Regions from separate parts of the Homo sapiens genome. Here region 2 is linked to region 1. The links come from fine-mapping of genetic effects on gene expression. A gene starts in region 1. The other region holds a variant in brackets. All regions are shown on one strand. Distances are between the middles of the regions. Region 1 holds the start of HEATR5B (HEAT repeat containing 5B). Region 2 overlaps HEATR5B (HEAT repeat containing 5B).

Region 1 (2,922 bases):
CGCTCTTAAACCACAAACAATACCATGAGCGATCTGCGCCTTAAGGGCATGTTCCTGCTGCACAGAACTAGCCAGACCCACCCCTTTGTTTCAGCATACCCCTTCGTTTCCCATAAGGGATACTTTTAGCTAATCGAATATCTGTAGAAACAATGTTAATGGCTGGCTTGCTGTTAATAGACACTTGAGTAAATCTCTGTTCCGGGGTCTCAGCTCTGAAGCCTGTGAGACCCCTGATTTCCCACTTTACACCTCTATATTTCTGTGTGTGTCTTTAATTCCTCTAGCGCCGCTAGGTTAGGGTCTCCCCAAACGAGCTGGTCTCGGCAAATCAAGGCTATGCAGGAAGAAAAAACAGATTAAAAAAAAAAAAGAGCCTATTATTGACTCCTCAAAGAGATAAGTGAAGACACTGGGATTGTTAGGCAGCATAGAGAGATCACTTGCAACGGGTGACGATGATAAATTTAAAGTGACACCAGTCATATAGCCATGTTTTTCTCCAGTTACAATGAGCTGCCCAGGTACAAACATAAAGAAGATAGGCAATGAGCTGGATTTAAACGAGGTTTGAGTTTTGCCACTAAATTTCCCATTCGTGTAATACTCTCAAGTTCCATAAGTGACCCATAAACCTTCCAAAACATAACATGTGTTTTCTTAAGAATCATGACCACATAATCTCTTCACGTTAATGCAACTGGGAAAAAAGAGCAATACCATACCTTGTTGGCAGCAACCAAGACTTTATCAAGAAATCGCAACCATTCAAAGATGAAAACTGGTCTTTTTGCTTCGGTGATTTGAGCCAAAGCTTCTTCATTTAGCAATAAACTGTGGGCTAACTCCATTACGGAAGTTTGAAATTCACACCTTAAATTTAACAGAGTAAAAAATACTTGTAAGTATTTTTTAATGTTAAAAGTCAAGCTTAATGGAATATACTCACTAAGAAAAGTAGGACTACTCATTTCATTTGGGGAAAAACTCAACTTCTTTGAGGCAAAACCTGAGAACATACTTTTAAATGACAAAAATACAAACAAAAACAGAAGAAAACTACTTGGTAAGGAAGAGTGACTCATGGAGTGAAAAGAAAATTAAAAGAAATTATTGCCAAAAAAGGCATTATTCCAGAAGAAATATGTCCAGCAACACATATGTCATTTACCCGTTCTATAAATGAAAAAACTGAAGCACTAAGATCAAACACCCCAGCCGGGCTTGACAACCATCCTCCTCTTTTTCTCGTCCAGGGTTCGGTACATAGCACCTTTACCCTCCCGCGCTGCACCTGGCCAGAGGGACTGAGGTCAAAACACCCAGCACAGACATCCCGAACTGCAGGTCTCCAAGACTCTTCCTACGCGGATGGGTGGGGCGGCCAGGCCCGGCGGCCGAAGCGTCAGTGACAACACCAGGCGGTCCGGAATGCACCCGAGAAGCCTCGCGCGCTCGGGGTCTGGCTTCACCTGGCTACTCCAAGAACCGCAAGCGGCGGACCCGGGGAAACACCAAGAGGCCGCCGCAAGCCTCCGTGGGGTTCCGCAGGCTGTCAATAGCACGAGGCGGCAGCTCGGAACTAAGCACGGAGCCAGAAAAGGGAAAATGTTCATTACGAACTCAAATGTCTTCCCCACCCGTCTGAAAATGTACGTCGGACAGGAGTCCGTGCGTGTCAACATGCATGCTTCGGCGACCTCACCTCGTAGTCTGGAAGGGAAGATCAGCTGAGCTCCGGGGGTAGAAGCAGCCACCAAGAGACCCGGATGCCCCACCTCCCGCACTCCTACCTGCAGGAAACAAGGGAAGAGCGCTTGCGCGGAGGGCTGGTCTTGCGCAAGCGCAGTCACCACGTCCTCCTATCCCCACCCGCCGCGAATTTCCAATAGAGTCTGCACTAGGAAACTGGTGGGAGCCGAGGTCCGGAAGTCCGACGCTGGTCGGTGGGCGCATGCGCAGCGCGCGCTCTACGGCGCTGAACCGGGGCGAGCAGAGAGCTGTCAGGTAAGAGAGCTGTCAGGTAAGGGTCTGGGGACAACCGGTAGAATGATAAAAGGCAGAGTGCGCTGGCCATGACTACCGTATCACACCGTCAGCCACTTTTCCATCCGTGGGTGGTTGCGTCTGTGGGACGCTTGCAGCCAGGAGGAACGCGTGAGGGAAGGGATCAGCGGTTCCTGAGCGTAGTATTGAGAGTGGGACGTTTCTTGTCACATTTATACTGTAGGTCCATTTCTCCACTTGTATATGTAATGGGACTCTCAATATGTCTGTTTCCCGACTACGCCCCCTAAAAAAACAAAAACAAACCTACTCCTACAGTCTTCCCACTCTCAAAAAACGTTAACTCCGTTCTTCCATGTATTCAGGCCAAAAACTTAGCGTTATCTTGACATCGTTCTTTACGTACTACCTACAACATCAGCAAATCCTGTAAGCTCTACCTTCAAGTGTACCCCAAATGCGACCACTTGCATTGCTATCACTCTGGTACGAGCCTCCATCATCTCTGCCAGGGTATCGCCTTGTGAAGTTTATGCTTATCTTTGATGGAAATGGATAATGCTAAAGTATATTTTACCAATAGAAAGAGAGCTTTAAAAGCAACCTGTAACCCCATTCAGATGTGCCTGGCACTTTAAAGTTAAGTAGGTCTCTTAAAAACAATGTAATCCTATTTGCAAGGCACTATGACCCGGATTCTTTGTGGTTTTGAAATAGTCATTTAGCCATACTGAACCTTAATTTCTCCAACAGGAAAAACTCTTCCTACCTTGTAGAGTTGTTAGTGGTGGTTAAATGTGATAAAAATGTGTGATATACTGGGTAAGTGTTAAACCATTATGTGTAAAAATGCTGTTATTACCAATGAAGAATCTGAGGTTTAGAGGAAGCGGGTGAATTACCATAAATGCTGTA
Region 2 (2,922 bases), 20 kb before region 1:
TTTTTTAGAGACAGGGTTTCACTCTGTCACCCAGGCTGGGGTGCAGTGGCACAATCATAGCTCGGTGTAACCTGGAATTCCTGGGCTCAAGGGATCCTCCTACCTCAGCCTCCTGAGTAGGTAGGACTACAAGTGTATGCCAACATACTTGGAAAATTTTAAAAATTTCATTTTTTATTTTTTGTATGACAGGGTCTCACTATGTTTCCCAGGTTGGTCTCAAACTTCTGACCTAAAGTGATCCTCCAGCCTCGGCCTCCCTAGGCATTGGGATTACAGGTCTGAGCCACCACGCCCAGGCAAGGTTAGCTCAATGGTAGATGCATAATAGGAGTTCAACAAATCTTTGAATGTGGAATAATAGTGCTAATAATGACAGCATTTATTTAGTGGTCACATGGGCTAGCACTGTTCTCGGTACTTTGCTGTATTAACATCCACACAGAATGGCTAGTATAGACTTAAATTTGGTGCAGCTGAATAAGAGGGGAGATGAAACTCTAAGAGGTTAGCAGAGCAAAGGCTTCGAAGCTGAAAAAGGCCAGGGAAGGAAGGAAGATAACTAGTCTAATTAGAGCAACAGGAAATTTGAATGAACGGCGGAATGAAGTCAAATTATAAGATACCAGTTTACCAGACAAAGGAGATTATATTTTACTCTCTGAGTACTGGGTAGTCCCTAAGGGTCTCTGGGCAAATGTAAAATATGAAAGTGGTATGAGGAAGATGGGACGTGTGGGGAAGATGGAAAGTCTGAGGAAGATGAGAATGAGGAAGCAACGATATGACAAAGTGAGAGGGAAGTCTGGATTTCATCGGTAGCTATGCAACTGCTATGAATGGACATGGGCTTAATGTCCCAGAAAAAAAATCAAAATTTAAAACTCTAGCCCCAATCTGCCTATGTAAAGTTTCAAATAATATTTATATAAACACTTAAGATTACTGAGAAGAAAACCATGATAGTAGTATACAACAGAAAGAAAGGAGAAAAAAAAGCTACTCATATTTTTTATTTTATTTTATTTTTTGAGACGGAGTCTTTCTCTGTCACCCAGGCTGGAATGCAGTGGTGCAACCTCAGCTCACTGCAACCTCCGCCTCCTGGGTTCAAGTGATTCTCCTGCCTCAGCCTCCCAAGTAGCTGGGATTACAGGCATGGGCCACAATGCCCGGCTAATTTTTCTGTATTTTTAGTAGAGACAAGGTTTCACCATGTTAACCAGGCTGGTGTCAAACTCCTGATCTCAAATGATCCACCTGCCTCGGCCTCTCAAAGTGCTGGGATTACAGGTATGAGCCATCATGCCCGGCCATGATTTATTAAAACCACTCAATTTTTACTAAACATTATCAAAATGCTAAATATTACAATAGC[G/A]TATTATCCTGACATCTTTGAATATATAGCAATGTGAACTTTTATTTCTAAAAGCTGAAAGAAAAGCTCTGACTTTCAAATAATTACTATATCTAAGGTTGGGTTTTTTTTTTTTTTTTTTTTTGAGACAGGGTAGGTCTTGGTCTGTCACCCAGGCTGAAGGACAGTGGCATGTTCATAGCTCACTGTAACCTCAAACTCCTGGGCTCAAGTGATCCTTCCAACCCATCCTCCCCAGTAGCTAGGACCATGAAGTTGGCTAACTTTTTTTATTTTTTGTAATGATGGGGTCTCACTATGTTGCCTAGGCTGTTTTTTTTCTCTTTCCCTCTAAAATAAATTATAACATGTTACTAGACTTGGACAAAATCTATTATCCTTACATCAGAATTAAATATCAAATTATAATAGGGTCTGTTAACACCATAGTAAGAACACTATGTTTTATGATAACATAGTACAACTGTTATTTGACCACCCTGTTCAACACTAAACACAGCAGCGTTCCTATAAAGACCAAAGCCCACGTGACAGCATTCCCAAGTCTAGGATCTCCGTCATACCTTTCCTTTGGCATGAGGAATGCCCAAAGGACACTGATGTACTCCACCTAACAAAGCAGCCATTGCAAAACTATATCCACTGACAGCTTCTGGTGAGGTCTTCAAGTTGTTGAGCCGTTCTGCACACCTGTCTAGAAATGGTGTCAGCTGGAAAGGTAATGCCACAGCCACACAGCGCAAACACCATGCAGCAGCAAGTCGGGCAGCCATGCTTGGATGAAGCAGCACTGAAGTCACAATCTCCAAAAGCCCTAAACAAGAAATACTCAAAATATTACTCTTTAATGAAGTCAAATGATTTCAGAAACTCAAATACTATCTAAAAAACAATAACTGAAATGACAATCACCAAGCTTTCACACATATAGATCCACAACTTTGCCTAAAACTACATACAGTAGAGTACTTCAAAGGAACATTTTCTATGAAGAACATAGTACAATTATATTCAATATTGATGTAAAATTTAATAGAAGTCTTCAACAAATTTTAGTCAATTTTTATAAAAAAACTACCACAATTGCTTTTGATTTCTGTTCCAAAACTTTATTTAACCATTTAATTCAATATTCTTTACAAGGAAACTTTTTTTTTTTTTGAGACTCACTTTGTCCCCCAGGCTGGAATGCAGTGGCATGATTTCGGCTCACTGCAACCTATGCCTCCTGGGCTTAAGCAATTCTCCTGCCTCAGCCTCCCAAGTAGATTACAGGCACGTGTCACCACAGCTGGCTAATTTCTGTATTTTTAGTAGAGACAGACTTTCACCATGTTGACCAGGATGGTCTTGAACTCCCGATCTCAAGTGACCTGCCCACCAGGGCCTCCCAAAGTGCTAGGATTATAGGCACGAGCCACCACGCCCAGCCTATCACAATGAATATTAATTTAAGTAAAACCTGATGATCTGAAGTGCTAATGATGATGATAAGCAACTAATCAGGAATTAAATATCAATCACACTTATGACTGAAAAAAGTG

The links.
Region 2: its variant is fine-mapped to the expression of HEATR5B in whole blood (INTERVAL, PIP above 0.99).

The regions. Positions count from the first base shown.
Region 1 is chr2:37,082,564-37,085,485 of GRCh38, forward strand. HEATR5B (HEAT repeat containing 5B) reads right to left here and starts at 1,809. Exons shown (of 36, transcript NM_019024.3): 1 at 1,706-1,809; 2 at 726-873. The coding sequence starts at 851. It overlaps GPATCH11 (G-patch domain containing 11), which reads left to right and starts at 1,955. Exons shown (of 9, transcript NM_174931.4): 1 at 1,955-2,007. RefSeq lists enhancers at 1,317-1,416, 1,887-2,046.
Region 2 is chr2:37,062,799-37,065,720 of GRCh38, forward strand. HEATR5B (HEAT repeat containing 5B) reads right to left here. Exons shown (of 36, transcript NM_019024.3): 10 at 1,942-2,192. Among named protein-coding and RNA genes, the nearest start is that of HEATR5B, 20 kb to the right of the region's middle. The variant G/A (reference allele first, on the strand shown) is at 1,379.